Homo sapiens: one gene and its partners. The protein of the gene in region 1 interacts with the protein of each later gene in a biochemical or structural test. Each region holds a gene or a part of one and is shown on either strand. Other genes may lie near its edges.

The links.
Region 2: the proteins of RAD51 (region 1) and RAD51AP1 form a complex in vitro, tested with the Homo sapiens proteins (6 studies listed by BioGRID and IntAct).
Region 3: the proteins of RAD51 (region 1) and RAD52 form a complex in vitro, tested with the Homo sapiens proteins (6 studies listed by BioGRID).

The regions. Positions count from the first base shown.
Region 1 is NC_000015.10:40,691,256-40,698,192, reverse strand, and holds the start of RAD51 (DNA repair protein RAD51 homolog 1), read right to left. Parts: upstream 3,020-6,937; 5' UTR 2,768-3,019; intron 2,662-2,767; exon of another isoform or gene 2,567-2,661; intron 2,560-2,566; exon of another isoform or gene 2,328-2,559; intron 1-2,327.
Region 2 is NC_000012.12:4,534,915-4,541,915, reverse strand, and holds the start of RAD51AP1 (RAD51-associated protein 1), read right to left. Parts: upstream 3,027-7,001; 5' UTR 2,977-3,026; coding exon 2,960-2,976; intron 33-2,959; coding exon 1-32. Other genes in the region: FERRY3 (ferry endosomal RAB5 effector complex subunit 3), read left to right, coding at 5,722-5,899. UniProt on the Homo sapiens protein: Structure-specific DNA-binding protein involved in DNA repair by promoting RAD51-mediated homologous recombination.
Region 3 is NC_000012.12:946,669-953,735, forward strand, and holds the start of RAD52 (DNA repair protein RAD52 homolog), read right to left. Parts: upstream 3,027-7,067; 5' UTR 2,934-3,026; exon of another isoform or gene 2,735-2,933; intron 1-2,734. UniProt on the Homo sapiens protein: Involved in double-stranded break repair. Plays a central role in genetic recombination and DNA repair by promoting the annealing of complementary single-stranded DNA and by stimulation of the RAD51 recombinase.

The DNA.
Region 1 (6,937 bases):
AAAAAAAAAGTTCATCTCATACAAGGAACAAATAGAACAGTGGTAACCAGAGACTGAGGAGAATGCAGCTGTTGCAGGGGGCGGCAGGAAGGAGAGAGGTTGGTCAACAGGCACAAAGTTTCAGTTAGATAGGAGGAATAAGTTCTAGGGTTCTATTTCACAGTAGGGTGACTACAGTAAACACTAATGTAATGTATACTTCAAAATAGCCAGAAGCGAGTATTTTGAATGTTCTCATCACAAAGAGAAATGACAAGTGTTTAAGTGAACTGATGGATATGCTGATTACCCTGATTTGATCATTCATTATACAATGTATATATGTATTGAAATATCATCTTGGGCCAGGTGGAGTGGCTCACGCCTGTAATCCCAGCACTTTGGGAGGCCAAGGCGGGTGGATCACCAGGTCAGGAGATCGAGACCATCCTGGCTAACATGGTGAAACCCTGTCTCTACTAAAAAATACAAAAAATTAGCTGGGCGTGGTGGCAGGCTGAGACAGGAGAATGGCGTGAACCCAGGAGGCGGAGCTTGCAGTGAGCCAAGATCGCGCCACTGCACTCCAGCCTGGGCGACAGAGTGAGACTCCGTCTCAAAAAAAAAAAAAAAAAAAAAGAAATATCATCTTGTATCTCATAAATATGTACAATCGTCTGTCAAAAACAAAGTAACACTTATTATTTTCACAACCTTGGGACAGAAAAAGATTTCTTGAAACTGGATGCATAACGCACTAGCCAAAAAGGAAAAGACTGAAAACTGAACTACATTTAAATTCAGCACTTCTACTGGGCACTGTGGCTCACGTCTGCAATCCCAGCACTTTGGGAGGCCAAGGCGGGCAGATCACCTAAGTTCAGGAGTTCAAGACCAGCCTGACCAACATGGAGAAATCCTGTCTCTATTAAAGAAAAATACAAAATTAGCTGGGCGTGGTGGCACATGCCTGTAATCCCAGCTACTCGGGAGGCTGAGGCAGGAGAATCGCTTGAACCCGGGAGGCGGAGGTTGCGGTGAGCCAAGATTGTGCCATTGCACTCCAGCCTGGGCAACAAGAGCCAAACTCTGTCTCAAAAGGAAAAATAAATAAATAAATAAATAATAAAAAAATAAATTCAGCACTTCTATTCATCAAAGGACACCACTAAGAGAGTGACAAGTCAAACCACAGTAGAGAAAACATTTAGCACAAACATAACTGAGGGCTGATAACCAGTATATAAAGAACTTCACATCAGTAAGAAAAAGATAATAGAAAAATAGGCAAGAGATTTGAACAAGCACATCACAGAAGATATCAAAATGGGCAAAAACATATGAACAGATGTCCAACATCATTATTAATCAGGAAAATTAAAATCACATTAAGACATTACTGTGTAACCAGCAGAATAGTTAAAATCAAAAAGGCTGAAAAATATCGTGTTGGCAAGCATGTGAAACAACGAAACACTCAACACTCCTGATGTATTTTTATATAAAATTCAAAAACAAGCAACATTAGTTCATCTCATTAGAAACCAGTATAGCAGTTACCACTGTAAAAAGGGGAAAATATTAAATACTACACAGGAAGGCTTCTGAGGACCATTCTATTAAGTGGTGATTACATAGGTGTATATTCATTTTGTCTTGCTCTATCGCCCAGGTTGGAGTGCAGTGGCCTGATCACAGCTCACTGCAGCTTATACCTCCCAGGCTAGATCCTCCCTTCTCAGCCTCCTGAATAGCTGGGCCTACAGGTGCACGCCACCATGCCTAGCTAATTTTTCCTATTTGTAGAGATGCGGGTCTCACTATCTTGACCAGGCTGTTCTCGAACTCTTGGGCTCAATCGTCCTCCCGCCTCCACTTCCCAAAGTGCTGGGACTACAGACGTGAGACACGACGCCCGGCCAGTATATTTTGTAATAATTCACGGAGTTGTATACAGTTGTGAATGTGAATTTTTCTACATGTATATTACATTGCGCTTTAGAAGTTAAAAACAAACAAACAAACAAAAAAACAGGGGCCAGGCGCTGTGGCTCACGGCTGTAATCCCAGCACTTTGGGAGGCAGAGGCGGGTGGATAACCTGAGGTCAGAAGTTCGAGACCAGCCTGACCAACATGGTGAAACCCCGTCTCTACTAAAAATACAAAAATCAGCCTGGCGGCGTGGTGGTGGGGGCCTGTAATCCCAGCTCCTCGGGAGGCTGAGGTAGGAGAATCGCTTGAATCCGGGAGGCGGAGGTTGCAGTGAGCCGAGATCGCGCCACTACACTCCAGCCTGGGCGGAAGAGCGAGACTCCATCTCAAAAAAAAAGTTTTAAGAAAACCAAACCTCACTTCAGATCATTCTCTAGGCATCATGTGAATGGTTTTCCGCATTAGATGATGAAAACACTGTTTTGGCAATCGGAGATTGGTACTTTCTAAGCACGGTGTAATGGAAAGACAGATCAGGAATCCGGAAGCCCTGGCTGTGATATTAAACAGCTGTGGCTACACCGCTCTGATCTCGGACTTCTCGCTCGAACCCATAAAATAGGTGTTGCCTATAAAGGCTCTAATGTTTCTCCCCTAGTTCTAAAGACTGAGGTCCACTTGTGTTTTCGCCCCAGCAGCTGAGGGTCGGTCGGGCGCGGACACGCCCTGCCACGTCCGGGTTTCACACTGCGCGCGGAGGCCCCAACTGCCGCTGAGCACTGGACCGGCCAGGACGCAGGTGGGCGAGGACGAGCCGCGGCTCTGGAGGGCCCAGCCTGCGCCTCACACACTCACCTCGGTCCGCAGCGCTCCTCTCTCCAGCAGGCCCCGCGCTCCGACTTCACCCCGCGGGCGTGGCACGCGCCCGACCCGCACGGCCCCCAACGCCCCTGGCTTACGCTCCACTTCTCTACTCGCTTGCCCCAGCCTTCTGCGCACAACCCAGATGAGTTGCAGTTCCCAGCTGCACGCCTCGGGAAGCGCCGCACTCTCCTTAGGGCTCGGTCTCTGGCCGCTGCGCGCGGTCCGCCAGCGGCTTTCAGAATTCCCGCCAAACCCTCTCGCCCAGGGTCACGCCCGCGTCGACGTAACGTATCCCCGCCTCCCGGATCCGCCTTCTCCCCGCTTCCGCCCTGCGCGCTAACCCAAGACGGGAGCTCGAGAGCTTGATCCTGCGCGAGTTTACAGACTGCCCTCTTCCCTTTTTGCGTAAGGACTAATTCAAACTTTATGCCGGGGGCGGTGGCTCACGCGTGTAGTCCCAGCTGCTCGGGAGGCCGAGGCGAGAGTATCGTCTGAGCCTAGGAGTTCGAGGCTAACCACGGCAACGCCCCTACTCCTACCCCAGTCCCTCGCGGGTGGGGCGAGGGATTTCAGGGGGCGGTGGGGGAAGACTTAACCGAGTTGCCGTCTTCTGTTTACCAGATCGAAGACCACGACTCCCAAGAGGTAATGCGTCGGCCCGGGACTACATCTCCCGGCATGCATCGCCGGCGGGTCCGCGAGTTCTCACCATCGCAGCTGGACTATTAGCGGGGGCCCTAGCGCTCTTGTGGTTTGTTTCGGCAGTATCTGAATGTCAGCTTTTGGCACTTCTGGTCGCTCTGAGCCTCCTACTCGCATTCCTGGAGCAAGGTGCTTTCCAGGCCTCATGGAGGTGGAGGAGCTGAGGAAGCTCGAGAAGATGGATAGAAGTGGGAAATGGAGCTAGCGTACGGGAGAGGGAAATGGCTGGAATATTCGTCAATCTGTGGTGCTTTACTGGAGATTTGCAGGAGTTCAGAGGAAGGGGGCATTGAATTTCATAACCTAAACCGTATCGTGGTTTACCAGAAAGTTTTGACCCGTGATTCCGGTTTTAAAGGCTGAGTAGGGCCGGGCGCGGTGGTTCACGCCAGTAATCCCAGCAGTTTAGGAGGCCAAGGCAGGCGGATCACCTGAGGTCAGGGGTTGGAGATAAACCTGGCCAACGTGGTGAAACCTCGTCTTTAGTAAAAAATACAAAAATTAGCCAGGTTTTGTGGCACATGCCTGTAATCCTAGCTACTCGAAAGGCTGAGGCATGAGAATCGCTTGAACTCAGGAGGAGGTTGCAGCCAACCGAGATCTCGCCGCTGTACTCCAGCCTGGGCGACAGAGCGAGACTGTGTCAAAACAACACCACAAGCTAGCTGAGTAGGGATTCTTGGGCGAAGTGGAAGACATTATAAGCAAATAGGGTAGTATGGGCATGGAAACGAACTACATGATTAAAGATTAGTATTATCTGGCGAGGGAGGAAAAGTGCCAGAGCAAGTGCCGAAACTGGAAGGTTACATTTAGTTCAGGATATGAAGATCATATAAGGCCTGCACGGTGGCTCACACCTGTAATCCCAGCACTTTGGGAAGCCAAGGTGGGGGAGGATCGCTTGAGCTCAGGAGTTGGAGACCAGCCTGGGCAACATAGTGGGACCCCATATCTCAAAAAAAAAAAAAAAAAAAATAAGCTGGGCGTGGTGGCTTGTGCCTGTGGTCTCAGCTATCCCGGAGGCTGAGGTGGGAGGACTGCTTGAGCTCAGGACGTCAAGGCTGCAGTGAGCTATGATGGGCCACTGCACTCCAGCCTGGGCTACAGAGTGAGACCTTGTCTCAAAAGACAAGCGACAACAACAAAACATGTAAGGAGAGGCCAGGCGCGGTGGCTCAAGCCTGTAATCCCAGAACTTTGGGAGGCCAAGGTGGGCGGATCACGAGGTCAGGAGTTCAAGACCAGCCTGGCCAAGATGGCAAAACCCCATCTCTACTAAAACTACAAAAATTAGCCGGGCGTGGTGGTGCATGCCTGTAATCCCAGCTCTTTGGGAGGCTGAGGCAGAGAAGTGCTTGAACCCGGGAGGTGGAGGTTGCAGTGAGCGAGATCACGCCACTGCACTCCAGCCTGGGCAACAGAGCAAGACTCCGTCTCAAAAAAAAAAAAAAAGGTAAGGAGCTTTGGTCTCTAGGTACTGAAGAAATCATTGAAGTTTTTAAGAAGACAAGTCATTTGGTTAGATCTATTTTCCCTCCACTTACCAATTTATTTTTATTTTTATTTATTTATTTATTTATTTATTTTAGATGGAGTCTTGCTCTGTTGCCCAGGCTGGAGTGCAGGGACGTGGTATCAGCTCACTGCAACCCCACCTCCCAGATTCAAGCGAGTCTTCCTGCCTCAGCCTCCCAAGTAACTGGGATTACAGGCGCCTGCCACCACGCCCAGCTAATTTTTTGTATTTTTAGTAGAGACAGGGTTTCACCATGTTGGCCAGGCTGGTCTCGAACTCCTGACCTCAGGTGATCCACCTACCGTGGCCTCCCAAAGTGCTGGGATTACAGGTGTGAACCACCGCACCCGGCCTTATTTTTTTATTTTTGAGACAGCATCTCGCTCTGTTCAAGTTGGCCTTGAACTCCTGGCCTCAAGTGATCCTCCCACCTTGGCCTCCCAAAGTGTTGGAATTACAGGTGTGAACCATTGCAATGGCCTTATTACTACTTTATATTTGTGGAGTGCTTTAAAGTTGACAAAGTTTTTAGTTAATCCTCACACTATTACCTTGTGGCGTTGAAGAACAGATTTCAGGAGCGTGAAAGTGAAGACACCAAAAAGGAAGTTCTTGCAATATTTCAACAAAGAGATGAAGATTTGGATTAGATTCCAGTTCTACCTTTTTGGCACCAGGGAGCTGTTCTGTGAAAGACAATTTTCCACAGGGCTCGGGGGGTGGGCATGAGGCAGAGGATGGTTTCGGAATGAAACTGTTGCACCTCAAGATCATCAATTAGATTTCCATAAGGAGTGTGCAATCTAGATTCCTCACAGGTGCAGTTCAAAATAGGTTTTGAGTTCCTGTGAGAATCTAATGCTCTCCTTGATCTGACAGGAGGCAGAGCTCAGGCAGTAATGCTTGCTTGCTAGCTGCTCACCTGCTGTGCAGCCCAGTTCCTAATAGGCGACAGGTCTGTGTTGGGGCGTTGGGGTCCTCTGAATTAGAGGAATGACAGAGAGAACAGACTCAGGCAGCTTTCTGGATGTAGAAACAACCTAACTTAGTGATTATAGATACTACCTGTGATAATAGTGAACTTTCTTCCATATCAAAGTTACACACCTTTGCCTCCGGTTCTTCCCACACCCTTAGAGCATCTGCAAACCTACAGCCCTCCTCCTAGCTGACTGTAGTCACATGACTTTTACCTTTCTGGCCACCAGTTGTACCAGCAGTGTTCATCTGGCCCCAAATTGGCCAATCATTTTCCTGCTCCTGGAAAATTAGACTTGGCTTTATATTCAAGTCTGACCTCAGGAATTTATGGGGCAAAGTACACAGATAGATGTGTGTGAATGTCCAATCAGAGAAAGCACATCTGCAGAAAGATTAAGAAATTGATGTCGGGTGTGGTGGCTCAAGCCTGTAATCCCAGCACTTTCGGAGGCTGAGGCAGGCGCATCACCTGAGGTCAGGAGTTCGAGACCAGCCTGACCAACATGGTGAAACCCCATCTCTACTAAAAATACAAACATTAGCCTCCAGCTACGCAGGAGGCCAAGGCAGGAGAATCGCATGAAACTGGGAGGCAGAGGTTGCAGTGAGCTGAGATCGTGCCACTGCACTCCAGCCTGGATGACAGAGCAAGACTCTGTCTCAAAAAAAAAAAAAAAAAGAAAAAGAAAAAGAAATTGAGATACTAAGGAGAGAGTCAAAGATAAATAAACCATTTGAATTCTGACTCCTTTCCAGATCGCCTTTCCAGTTTCTCAGAAGCCTAGCAGTACTTACTCCTCCTGCTCTTGGGTTCTTTTTTACTTTTTTTTTTTTTTTAAAAAAAAAACCTTGAACTCTTAAGGATTAATGCTCTTGAGTTATGAGATATCCCTACATTCCAATAACTCTACCTTCTATTTTTATTGATTAAACTAGTTTGAGTAGTTTCTGTTCCTTTC
Region 2 (7,001 bases), on another chromosome or scaffold:
CAAACTGTGAGTAATTGACTGGTTTCTTATGTCTATGACCAAAACAGAATTTTTTCATTAACACAAATGTCAATTTCTCACCACTATTACTTAAGGCTATTAATGAATATTATTTATTTATTTAATATTATTCATTTATTAATAAATAATGAATAAACGAAATAAATAAAAATGTGTTAAATGAAATGTGTTTCAATAAATGAAAATGTGTTTGGGTTCAAGTAAGAATATTTAACTCTAAAACATGATTTGCATTTTACCGCGGGGATTTATCATTAGCTAAAATAGTTACAACTATACCTGATATACCTGGGTATTGTTGGCTTTTCAATTATATGATAAAGGAAAAAAATTCAGGTAACTTACAAAGAATAATCTACATAATTAACATTTATAATTGCTATACTGTTTAATTGCTGTTGGGCATTTGTAAGTTCCCGTTGTACGTGTTCTTCTGTTTTGTGTGTGCATTCTATCTTCCTTACTAGATTATAAATTTCTTGACACTAAAAGCTACTTTCTTTTCAATCTCTCCACCATACCAAATAACATTTTTATGCAACGGACACTTAAAAATGGTGAGTGACCTTGTTCCTACCACCTGAGATGAGTATCCCTTATCTGAAATGCTTGGAACCAGAAATGTTTTGAATTTTGGATTTTTTCAGATTTTGGAATATCTGCATTATATACTTACCAGCTGAGCATCCCAAATCTGAAAATCTAAAATCTGAAGTGCTCCAATGAACATTTCCTTTGAGTGCCATGTAGGTACTGCAAAAGTTTCAAATTTTGGAGCATTTCAAATTTGGGATGCTCAACTTGTACTACTTCAGAGGGCATTAGAAGAAAATGATATTCAAAGTGAAAAAAATAATTTTTTCCTCCCTCCTCTAGGCACTAAATAAAATGTTTTTCTAGTTTTTATTTCTATATTTTTGTCAAATGGCTAAATGTGAATAACCTAATTTGTCAGCTGGTTGTTCTTTCAAGTAAAAAGAATGTTCTATGAAAAAGAGGTAGTAAGCTCAGCTCACAACTCAGACAATCTCACAAGTGCTTTTCCTTGAGATAACTATCACGCATCAGTATACAGAAGTGCTTTATGTGTACTTCCTGTTTCCTCACGCAAACTATTAAAAAGTGCACTCATATTACTCTCTTACTCTTCAGAGTTAAAGAAGTTAGAGCTGAATAAAATGTGAAAACCCCTTTATAAATTCTGAACTTGAATAATAGTAAAATAAAATCAATAGCCTATTTTTAATTAGTATACTTAAGGGTTAAGCTATGATGAATATAATAATTTCCACTACTTCATCAAGCATATTCTTAACTGAAATGATTTTTTTTTTTTTTTTTACTTTTAAGAGTATGGCAGTAAACATTGCAAAGACTAGTAGTACAATTTAGTGCCACTGCCTTAATTGTTCTGAGGTGCCAGCAGTTTTATCGGGGTCACTGCAGTGCAAATGACAAAGCAGCGAAAAAGGCAAATCATATCTTAGTATTGTTATGAAAGGAGTTTTGACCTCATAGACCTCTAGAGAAGTTTCCAGGGACCCACAGAGGTCTGTAGACCATACTTTAACAACTGCTGTTCCTTACAAAGGGATTATGACTCCACTGCCTGGATGCTTAAAACCCATTTCAAATTCAGCATGTTCGAAACAGAAATCTTGATCCCTCACACCTCCTAACCTTCCTTTTCCTAGTCTTCCCTATCTTAATACAAAGATCATCCATCCTGTAGCTCAGACCAAAACTATTGTGGAGTCATCTCTGATTCTTTCTTTCCCTTACCTGTACATCTACTTCATCAGCAAGTTCTGTCCACAGTGCCTCCGAAATACATCCCAAATTCATCTGTTCCATTCCATGCCCACTAATAATACCCTATCCCAAACCGCTCTCCAATGATATAATACCTGATTTTCCTGCTCCCGTTCTGGTCACCCTATCCATCATTTATTCTCCACCAACAGCCAGTGACCTTTATAAAAGCAAACTTAGATTCCTCTCCCCTACTTAAAACCCTCCACTGACTTCCCATTGACTTAAAATAAAACCTAAACTCCTTTCTAAGACTTACAAGACCCTATCTGTTCTGGCACCTGCCTATTTCTCTGGCCTAATCCCCCTACGATTCTCCCCACTGCTTGTTAATCCTATAGCATTAGACTGTCCCTAAAATATGGTCAAGTATGGGGCCTTGGCTCCTATTCCCTCTACCCTGATTCATGACTCAGTGCATGCATTATCGCCTCAGAGTCACATATTAACTACTATATTTAAAGTAGTGCTTTCCTCTTTCGCACTCTCATATTTCGAGGCTTATTTTCGGCCCCCTAACCTCACCTCCCACTGGAATGTAACCTCCAGCACCTCGTACACTAAAGAAGTGAATATATTCAATAACTTTATTAAATGAATGGCTAACTATAGGCTTCCATGGCACTCAACTGTGTAAATAGAAGAATCGTTTCTAATACCACGATGGAAAGCACAGAGGATCTTGAGTGAGATGACTTAGGTTTGAGTATTGCCCTGCCACTTACTGGGCTGTATGACTCAGATAACTTACCCTCTATACGTAGAAATGTTAAATCAATACAACAGGAATGCTTACTCTTTCTATATCAAATAACTACAGTGATAAACAAATAAAATAACACATAATTGGGCGCTCGGTGAAATGTAAAGCGCTGTTCAAACGCTAACAAGGTCTTGGTAAAAGAAACGGCGACGGTTGTGAAGGGAGGCAAAGAGAAGGAAAAAGCTACGATGCTAGGATACTTCTGAGCAACGGGTGGCTCTCACTGGAGACTGGGTTCTTGATAACCGTCCATCCTAACCCCACCATCGCTGCCCTCCGGTCTTACTCGATCCTTTCCCCTTAGTCTCATGTCTTTTCCCTTAGTTTTCCTCCCACCCCCGACGAATGTCAGGAACTACCCACCTCACAGGCCGCACCATGGTCCCTTTCAAGGCTTGGTATTTACAGTTCTCAAATTCTTGTTGGCTTCAGCGGCGGTTTCAATTCCCGCCCAAAACCAGACTTCGGAGCCCTCCGCCCCCTGTTACCAGTCGTCCAATCATCACCAGCCATGCTTGCGGCGGCGCACGCGCTGTGGGGAAAGCGAATTTGCTCCCGCCCTCCCCAAGGCACCGCTTTTCCGTATCCGGTCCACCAGAGCCGAGTTTGTGCTTTGTCCCTGCACTTTCGTCACAACGGCGGATTTGCCCTGTCTCTGAAATACAGAATAACAATAGAAATACACCTTATTGCACCTTTCAAATTGTTAAATTGAAACAGGTTGGGACATAGGGGCACTTGGACTGAGAAATTTTCTACAAGATGCCAGGAAATAGAAAAGGATGTGGCGAATCTACGTTCGCGGATCCGCGGTGTGGAAAAAGTATGTCGGCAAGTCAGCTGGTTTCCCAGTGCAGGACGCGCTGACAGCTCGAGTGAGCGGACTGCCCAGGACTTCGGAACTAGACGAGGTGAGCCCAGAACCGAGTGAGGATGCCCTTTCAGACTGACAACCGTTACAGAGGGATTAGTCCCCTCACCCGGCTGAAGTTTCTCAGCTCGACCGTCTGTCTTCCTTTTCCCTGATTAATGTGAGCCTCAGAGCCTCCGCTCTGTTGGCTGTGTGTGTTCGGTCCAGACCTTCCATCCCATTTTCTTATGGGAAACCTTCCTGGATTTCACGGTTGCTAAAACTGAACCCAGGCTTCAGGATAGACCATTAGTCTAAAAAAAGAGCGAGAGGAGAAAGAACTAAAGTTATCAGTTTCTTGAAACACAAGTCTAAATGTTGAACCAGAGCTTTTGTGTCTGCCTTCTCTTTTTTTTTTCAACATTCCTGATTCATTCATATTTTTGCATTTATCAGTGGTTGATTCTTTTTTATTGCTGTGTAGTATTTATCTCATAAAATAAACAAGTTTACTATTCTCCTACTAATACGCATTTTGGTTGTTTCCAGTTTGGGGTATTATAAATAAAACTTATATGAGCATTCTTCTGGGTGTACTTTAGCGAACATATGCGTGTGTGTGTATTTGGATATATACTTAGGAATGAAATTTCTACATCATAGAATATACCTTTATGTAGTTTTGGTAGTTTTCTAACATTATAAAAATTTGTATTGCTTTACGTTTAATTTTAATTCTTTCTGAGTAAAACAAATACCCTATCTCTTTGCATTATGGTGAAATAGACGAAGATTTTTGTGTATAGCCTACATACAGATTTGAAAATATAGTCTGGATAATTCAACTTAGCCCCGCCCCACGACATGTACAAAAGTCCTTTGAGTTTTTTTTATATTTCAGGTGATATCTTTTTAAATAACCGTATGAATAATTTTTTGTTCTTTATTTTTCCAGTGAGCACCATAAAATAAAAACGCCATACAATCCAACAATTATTTATTAGTTCTTGCCATTCGCAACATCCTGCCTAATACATGGAATACAAGACAGTATTCCTTCCACTTCAAGAAGACTGTTTTCTAGCCAAGAGTAAGAAATAGAGCGTGATAAGTGCCATGATTCAAATAAGTCTAGGCTAATATGAGAGCCTGTCGGGACCCAATCCAGTTTTAGGGAGTTGGATAAGTCTTCCTAGAGGCTTAACTGAGACCTGAAGAATTAGCAATTGTTATCCAATGAAATTAAGATCAGTAAGAGTGCTCTAGGCAAAGGAAAAGGCATTCAAAAAGATTCGGCATGGAAGGAGAAGTTTGGTGTTGACAGAAGTTCAGAATGGCTGGAAAATAAAATTTGTGAATTTGTGTATTAGGAAGGAGAGGTGCAGTTTCTGAGAGAAGAGTGGAAATATAAGCAGGGGTGTTGTAAACTGGGATAAAGAGTTTGCATTTTATCCTGAGAGCAATGGAATGTCATAGAAAGTTTTTAAGCGGATGAACAACATGATCAGATAAGTATATTCCTTTTTTAAAAAGGAAGATTACTATAACTTCAGTGTAGAAAATAATGTAAGAACTGATTTGATGGGAGAAAGCCTAGCCATAGGAAGTCCAGTTACAAGGCTGATGAATAAATAAATCTTTAATTGATGTTGATTCTTACTGCCTTTAACTAGATTTTCTTCTTCCTTAGTAGTGTCTAGTTTGCCTTTGGGGTGTGGGCCGGAAGTGGAGGTCCTGTACTCTCTCTTTTCTGTGTATCTTCTTCCCACATGGAAATCTTTCTAACACTTTCTTACTCCCCTTCCCCCAGTCGGATCTCATGACCACAACCTCTAAGTTCTCCAGGATCACTCCTTGGTCCCTGATCTGCTTCTTTGACTTTCTTTTTACCAACGGTTTCTTAAGCTTTGTATTTCCCCACCCATGAACTCTCCCTAAGAATTCTCTCTGCTCTTCTCTCCATGGTCCTTCCCTATTATTGAGAACCCTGCCTTGGAATATAAAGTACTTTATGGCCATAATTTTTTTTCTTAAATCAAGTTTAAAACAAAGTGTCTTTTTTTTTTTTTTTAAAGAAGCACTTTGTTTTCATCATGAAGATGGAAGTACAGGGATAAACACTTGGGAAAAACTAGAATAATTGGCTCATAGACAAAATCTCTTGAATGGTGGAATGTTTTCTTAGAAATGGGACAGCAATAATGAAACATAATTTCTTTATGGACTTATAACCTACTGCTTTTTTGTTAGTTCTGTAGAAATCCTGTCAAAGAATATGAAGAAAAACAGAGAAAGATTCTGCAATAGAGAGAGAGAATTTGTATATAAATTTAAAGTAGGAAGTCAGTGCTTAGAACTGAGAGTGCCACTCAAATTTCCTGTTCAAGAGAATGCCAGTCATTTGCATGGACGTCTGATGCTGCTGCACAGTTTACCGTGCTTTATAGAAAAAGGTGAGGACTGTTTTTTTTTTTAAGTAACACCACTTTATTAGTTTCAATAGTCTGTCATTGGAAGTTTCATATTAGAAAGCATAAACCTAAGAAGCTTTGGAAACAGCCATAACATAGGAACTGATTCCAAGAATAAAAACATTTCTCCAGAGCTTTCTTTTATTGAGTGTTTTTTCCTATAAGTGGTAGTTGTTTATAAAATATAAAAATTAGATTTTATAATGAAAAATTAGCTACAAAGTTTGGAATTAGAGGAGCTCTTCTGAATTTAGTTGGGTGAAGTTATAAGGCAGTTTAGCTATCGCTAATTGTGCTAATAGAATTATAGTGCTAAATTGGTTGCCCTTTTAATAATCTGGTCATTAATTTCTGAGATGCCATAGAACAGAAAGTGTACTAATTTTTGAATAGTCTTTGCTTACCTAAATTAGTTTTATAAAGTTAGATGTATTAAACCATTTTTAAAGGTCTGTGCTCTATCTCACAGTCTAGGAAAAATTTAAAATTCAGAATATGTTAGATCACAGGTTAGAGTTATAAGAGAACCTAGAAACTTTATAGCCCAATCACATTGTACAAACAAGGAAACTGGAACATAAAGAGGTTAAATTATTTACCCTAGGCAGTGGTTCTTGAAATATGGTTTCTAATCATTTAGCAGCAACAGCATCACCTGCAAGCTTGTTAGACATGCAAATTCTCGGGCTGCATCCCATTTCTGCTGAATCAGAAACTAGGGTAGCATGTGGCAGTCTGTTTAAATAAGGCCTCCAGGGGTTTCTAATGCACACTTAAGATTGTGAACCACAGTCTAAAGTCGCGAACATAGTGATAATAATAGAGCCAAAGCCAGAACACAGGTGTCCTAACTTCTCTCTCAGTGCTCTTCCGTTATATCATTCTCTAAGTGGTGTCTGTAAAACTGAAATCGGTCAGTCATCTAAGTTAAATGTGTTAATAAGCTAGTCATTTAACTTCTCTTTCAAAGGATGTAACAATGTACCCTTTAAAGTTACATGGAAAACTCTTTTTAATGTAAATACAGTAATGTTCAGACCTTCAAAATCTGTAGCATTTTCTTTATGTCCTTATACCCACTTGG
Region 3 (7,067 bases), on another chromosome or scaffold:
CACAAAAATACAAAAAAACATGGCACTACGTATACAGCCAAAATAACACTTATGAACAGTTTTAGAGCTGAAACAGGAAGGCAGAGTGTCACCTTATTTGAACATAGCTGGGAAAGCATACAGTGGGTGACTCAAAATTTTTCACAACTAGTCTCTCCCACAGCTAGCTCAGTTACATTTTTCATACACTCATCTCCAACTACACCGTTTATACTACAAGATAACACGTTTTGGTGTACATTACACAACAGCAATCTCTGACGGTTTCTGCCTCCCTGAGAAGACCAGCACACAAACATTTCTCTGCTTGATACCACGATAATTAACGGCCTGGTAAGTGGTGAACTGAGAATAGAACACTTTAAAAAACACTCCCAGAGGGGCGCAGTGGCTCACGCCTGTAATCCCAACACTTTGGGAGGCCAAGGCGGGAGGATCACCTGAGGTAGGGAGTTCGAGACCAGCGTAACCAACATGGAGAAACCCCTTCTCTACTAAAAATACAAAATTAGCCGGGTGTGGTGGTGCACACCTGTAATCCCAGCTACTCGGGAGGCTGAGGCAGGAGAATCGCTTGAATCCAGGAGGCAGAAGTGGCAGTGAGTCAAGATCTCGCCACTGCAGTCCAGCCTGGGCAACAAGAGCGAAACTCTGTCCCCCCAAAAAAACAACAGACAAACAAAAAAACAAAACTCCCGCCCAGGTGTGGTGGCTCACACCTGTAATCCCAGCACTTTGGGAGGCCGAGGCGGGTGGATCACCTGAGGTCAGGAGTTTGAGACCAGCATTGCCAACACGGTGAAACCCTGTCTCTACTAAAAATACCAAAAATTAGCCTGGCATAGTGGCATGCGCCTGTAAGCCCAGTTACCGAGGAGGCTGAGAGAAACTCTGTCCCCCCAAAAAACAACAGACAAACAAAAAAACAAAACTCCCACCCAGGCGCGGTGGCTCACACCTGTAATCCCAGCACTTTGGGAGGCCGAGATGGGTGGATCACCTGAGGTCAGGAGTTCGAGACCAGCATGGCCAACATGGTGAAACCCTGTCTCTACTAAAAATACCAAAAATTAGCCGGGCATAGTGGCATGCGCCTGTAAGCCCAGTTACCGAGGAGGCTGAGATAGGAGAAGCGCTTGAACCCAGGAGGTGAGGTTGCAGTGAGCCCAGATACGCCATTGCACTCCACCCTGGGCAACAAGAGTGAAACTTCATCTCAAAAAAAAAAAAAAAACAAAAAAAAAACTGCCCTAAACGATACCAGACCTGAGGCCACTGAATTACCTGACCCAACCCAAGAGTTAAATGCTAGTTTCCAAAAACTTAAGTTTTAAATGTCTGTGCCTCAGACTGCGAGTTCTGTGGAGGACTAGACCTAGAAAGCCTAGAAAATCACCAGTATCCATCAAAAATGGAGAAACAAAATGTGGTATATCCACACAATAAATAATTCAGTTATTTAAAAAATGAAGTTGATACATGCTACATACAACATAGATGGACTTTGAATCATGAAGTGAAATAAACCAAACACAAAAGAACAAATATTGTATAATACAGTACTGAGAATGGGTAAATTCATAGATTAGTGCTGCTGGGAGTAGGAGGAAATAATGGGTGTCTGCTAATGGTTTTAAGGTTTCTTTTAGGGATGATAAAAATGTTCTGGAATTAGATAATAGTGGTGATTGCACAACCTTGTGAATATATTAAAACCACTGAATTGCACACTTTAAAAGGGTGAATTTAGACTGGGTGTGGTGGCTCACACCTGTAATCCCTGAACTTTGGAAGGGCGAGGAGTTCGAGACCAGCCTAACCAACATGGTGAAAAATACAAAGTAGCTGGGTGTGGTGGTATGCGCCTGTAATTCCAGCTACTTGAGAGGCTGAAGCAAAGAATCGCTTGAACCCAGGAGGCGGACGTTGCAGTGAGCCGAGACGGCGCCACTGTACTCCAGCCTGGGCAACAGAGCGAGACTATGTCTCCACTTTTTTTTAAAAAAGGGAGTGAATTTAATTGTACGTGAATTATAACTTTTTTTTTTTTGGATGGATTCTCGCTCTGTCCCCCAGGCTGGAGTGCAGTGGTGCGATGTCGGCTTACCGGCACACCTGCCTACTGGGTTCAAGCGATTCTCATGCCTCCGCCTCCCGAGTAGCGGGGATTACAGGCGCCCGCCACCAGGCCTGCCTAGTTTTGTATTTTTAGTAGAGACGGGGTTTCGCTATGTTAGCCAGGCTGGCGTAGAACTCCTGGCCTCAAGCGATCCTCCCGCATCGGCCTTCCAAAGTTCTGGGATTACAGGTGTGAGACGCCGCGCCAGACCTCTATCTCAATGTTATAACAAGGCTCAATACTCAGCTAAAGTGAGCGTCAAATTTTTATTTTTATTTTTTCCCCCGTGACAGGGTCTCGCTCTGTCGCCCGGGACGGAGTGTCGTGGTACGGGTGCGATCTCGGCTCACTGCAGGCTTGACCTCCAGGGAACATGGGGGCATGCCGCCACCATGCCCGGCGTCAAATTCCTTTTAAATCAATCATTTCTTCCCAGCGTCCCCCGCTCCCTGCAACTCAACTTCGTTTAGCTATTAACACAAACTTCAGATTCCCCACGCCTGTCTGCAGGCAGCATCTCCAAGGAAGCGCCACCACGGACACCTGGCTGTCCGCACCGCGGTGGGGTCCCGGCGCGTTGGTGCCAAGTTTCCTGTACCCCGCCTTCCTACCCACCTCTCGGGAGGCCCGGATACTGAGCCCCTCACTGCACTGGTGAACTAGAACAGGCCTCTGGACTCAGCATCTCTACGCTGAGACCTCAGGATCAGGTCCACCGCAGCCCCAGGTTCTCGACCCGGAAGCTGAGCCTTCCCACGCTCCACACCCACGGCTAGAACCACCCCGGGGGAAGCCGCTCTCCTCCCCCACTTACGCGCCTCGGGCAGCGCGCGGTGCACACAGGGAGCTCGATCTAGGCTATGGACAAGGGGAAGAGATCTTAGATGGAGGCCGCGCAGAGGAGAATGGGAAGGGTGCGCGAGCGTCTCTGGGAAGAAGGTCCGAACCCACGCCCAGCGCCGGAGGGGGAAAAAAAAAAACACAGACCAGAGAAGGAACCGTAAATCAAGTCGGAGGGGAAAAGAGCCGCAAAGCCTTCTGCGGCAGCCGTAAAGCAACCTGGAGGCGCGGTGCTGGCTTTTACGTTCTGAGCCGCTCGCCCTGCCGCTTCCCTGCGCGCCCTCTGCCTCCTACTTCCCGCCAGCTTCCCTCGGTCCGCGGCCGTCGGATCTCTGCTGCCCCCTGGTGGGCCTGGCGGTTTCGTCAGGCCTTCAGCGGCTAGTTAGGCCCGGGTGGTTCACACTTCACATGCCCAGTGCCCATTAGGATGCGGGGCCCGCCCACCCATGCACAATTGGGAAAATCTGAGGATGAATGGTTGTCAGAGACCTTCCCAGATTCCGCCCGGGCCGAGGCAGCGGTGGACCTGGTGGTTCTCGCGGCCTCTCACCACCGCCGCGCACATCCAGTCGTCACCGGATGGCGCCTTCGGTTAGCGACGACCGCAGGGAAATGGAGAAGTGCGGCTTGGGGGGCGAAGTCCCCTCTAGAATGTCCCCTGGGGCCGGGCGTGGTGGCTCAGGCCTGTAATCCCACCACTTTGGGACGCCGAGGCGGGCTGATCACGAGGTCAGGAGTTCGAGACCAGCCTGGGCAACATGGCGAAACCCTGTCTCTACTAAAAATACAAAAAATTAGCCGGGCGTGGTGGCGGGCGCCTGTAGTCCCAGCTACTCGGGAGGCTGAGGTAGGAGAATGGCGTGAACCCCGGGGGACGGAGCCTGCAGTGAGCCGAGATCGCCCCACTGCACTCCAGCCTGGGCGACAGAGCGAGGCTCCGTCTCAAAAAAAAAAAAAAAAGTTTTTGTAGCGACAGGGTCTTGCTATGTTGCCCAGGCTGGTCTTGAACTCCTCGCCTCAAGTGATCCTCTTGCCTCAGCCTCCCAAAGTGCTAGGATTACAGGTATGAGCCACTGCACCTAGCCCACTTATCATTCTTTTTGTGGCGAGATATTTTCAACTTACTCTCTTAGAAATTTTGAAATATACAATAAATTATTATTAACTATAGTCACTATGCTGTGCAATAAATCTCAAAATTGTATTCCTCCTGTTTAACTGTTAACTTTGTACCCTGAGACCAACATCTTCATCTCCCCATTATCTCCCCCAGCCCCTTATTCCCCAGCCTCTGGGGAATTTTTAGTAGAGACAGGGTTTCTCCATGTTGGTCAGGCTGGTCTCGAACTCCCAACCTCAGGTGATCTGCTCACCTCAGCCTCCCAAAGTGCTGGGATTACAGGTGTGAGCCACTGTGCCCAGCCAATATTGAGCATTTTTATGAACCTGTTGATCATTTGTATGTCATCTTTTGATAAATGATTTTTTTTTTAAAGAGTCAGGGTCTCAAGCTATCAAGCTGTTGCCCAGACTGTACTGCAGTGCTGCAATCATGGCTCACTGCAACCTCTAACTCCTGGGCTCAAGTGATCCTCCCACCTCAGCTTCCCAGGTAGCTGGGACTACAAGCATATGTCACCACACCTGGCTAATCTAAAATTTTTTTGTAGAGACAAGGTCTTTCTATGTTGTCCAGGCTTTTCACAACTCCTGGCCTCAAGCAATTCTCCTGTCTCAGCCTTCCAAAGCACTGGGATTACAGGTGTAAACCAGTGCACCTGGTGCCCTTTGCCCCCTTTTTAGTCGTGTGATCTGATTTTGCTATGAGTTGTTTGCTTTCTTCACATATTTAGAATAGGATAGTAACCCCTTATTGGATATATGGTTTGCAAATATTTTCTCTCACTCTGTTGTTTTCTTTGTTGTGTCCTTTCATTTCTGATTTTGGTAATTTGTGTCCTCTCCTTTTTTCACTAGTCCAGCTAGATGTTTATTAATTTTACCTGTCTTTTCAAAGAACCAGCTCATGGTTTTATTAATTACTACAATTGTTTTTCCATTTGTTTGTTTCACTGATTTTCATTGTTATCTTCATCACTTCCTTTCTTCTGCTCACTTTAGGTTTACTTTACTTTTCTTTCTTTTTGTTTCTTATGATTTTAACCTTTTTTTGTTTTAAGTAAAGGCATTTAAACTATTAAACTATAAATTTTCCTCTAAGAACTCCTTTAGCTGAATTTTATAAATTCTGAAACATAATTTTTGGGGTAAATGTATTTTAAAGTTACCTACCTGCATGTTATTGTATATATTATATTGTTTTCTTTTTTTTTATGAAAAACTTTTTTTTCTAAGAGACAGCACCTCACTCTGCTGCCCAGGCTATGGTGCAGTGGCACGGTCATAGCTCGCTATAACCTCAAATGCCTGGGCTCAAGTGATCCTCCTGCTTCAGTCTCCTAAGTAGCTAGGATTACAGAGGCTACATGCCCAGCTAAGTAAAAAAACATTTTTTTGGTGGAGGCAGGGTCTTGCTATGTTGCTCAGGCTGGTCTTGAACTCCTAGCCTCAAGCAATTCTCCCACCTTGGCCTCCCAAAGTGCTGGAACTGCAGGTGCATGACACTATGCCTGGCTAATTAAAAAAATTTTTTTTAGAGAGGGGTTCTTACTATGTTTCTCAGGCTTGTCTTAAACTCCAGGGCTCAAGCAATCCTCCTGCCTCAGCCTCCTGAGTAGCTGGGACTACAGGTGCTCACCACCATGCTCAGCTCTAAAAACTACATTTTAAAAATAGTTCCTGCTATTCTTTGTTGTGGGTTGAATTGTGTTCCTCAAAAAGACAGGTAGAAATTATAACCTCCAGTACTTGTGAATGTGACCTTAATTAGAGAGGGGTCTTTGTAGATGTAATCAAGTAGGATGAGGTCATACTCAATTCAGGATAGACCCTCTTCAATATAATTGCTGTTATAAGAAAACAGGCTGGGTTCGGTGCCTCACACCTCCCAACACTTTGGGAGGTCAAGACGAGAGGATCGCCTTGACCAGCCTGGCCAGTTCGAGATCAGCCTGGCCAACACGGTAAAACCCCGTCTCTACTAAAAATACAAAAATTAGCTGGGCATGGTGGTGGGTGCCTGTAATCCCAGCTACTTGGGAGGCTGAGGCAGGAGAATTGCTTGAACCTGGAAGGTGGAGTTTGCAGTGAGCCGAGATATAGTCATTGCACTTGAGCCTGGGCGACAAGAACAAAACTCTGTCTCAAAAGAAAGGGAACGGAAGAGAAGGGAAGGGAGGGGAAGGGGAGGGGAGGGGAGGGGAAGGGGGAAGGGAAAAGGGGAAGGGGAAGGGAGGGGAGGGGGGAGAGGGGGAGGGGAGGGGGAGGGAGGGAAGGGAGACGCCCGGGCCAGGTGGCTCACACCTGTAATCCCAGCACTTTGGGAGGGGGGCGGATCACTTGAGGTCAGGAGTTTGAGACCACCCTGGCCAGCATGTTGAAACCCCGTCTTTACTAAAAATACAAACATTAGCTGGGGATGGTGGCACATACCTTTAATCTCAGCTACTCGGGAGGCTGAGGCAAGAGAATTGTTTGAACCCGGAAGTGGAGGTTGCAGTGAGCCAAGATTGTGCCATTGCACTCCAGCCTGAGCGACAGAGTGAGACTCAGTCTCAAAAAAAATAAAAATAAAAATAAGAAAACAGAGACAAAGACAGAAGGAAGGCAGCCCTCTGAAGATGGAGGCAGAGATTGCAGTCATTATGCCAGAAGCCAAAGAACATGAGGCCACCGGAAACTGGAAGAGGCAAGGAAGTATCCTCCCCTGCTGTGAGAGCAAGCTGTCATTACTTAGTCAAATAAAGTGTATGTCTACGACCCAGTGATTCCACTCCTGTGTACAAAAAGTCCTCATACAATTTACGAAGGGACATACATGAACATATCCACTGTAGTATTATTTACTTCATAACATGGCCGTGCCAAGTTCTTTAATCTGGGACTTAGAGCCTCAAGAACTGAGAGAAGCTAAATTTCTGATGTTTTAAGCCACCCAGTTGTGGTAATTTGTTACAATGGCTTTAGGAAACTAACACAATGTGATTTC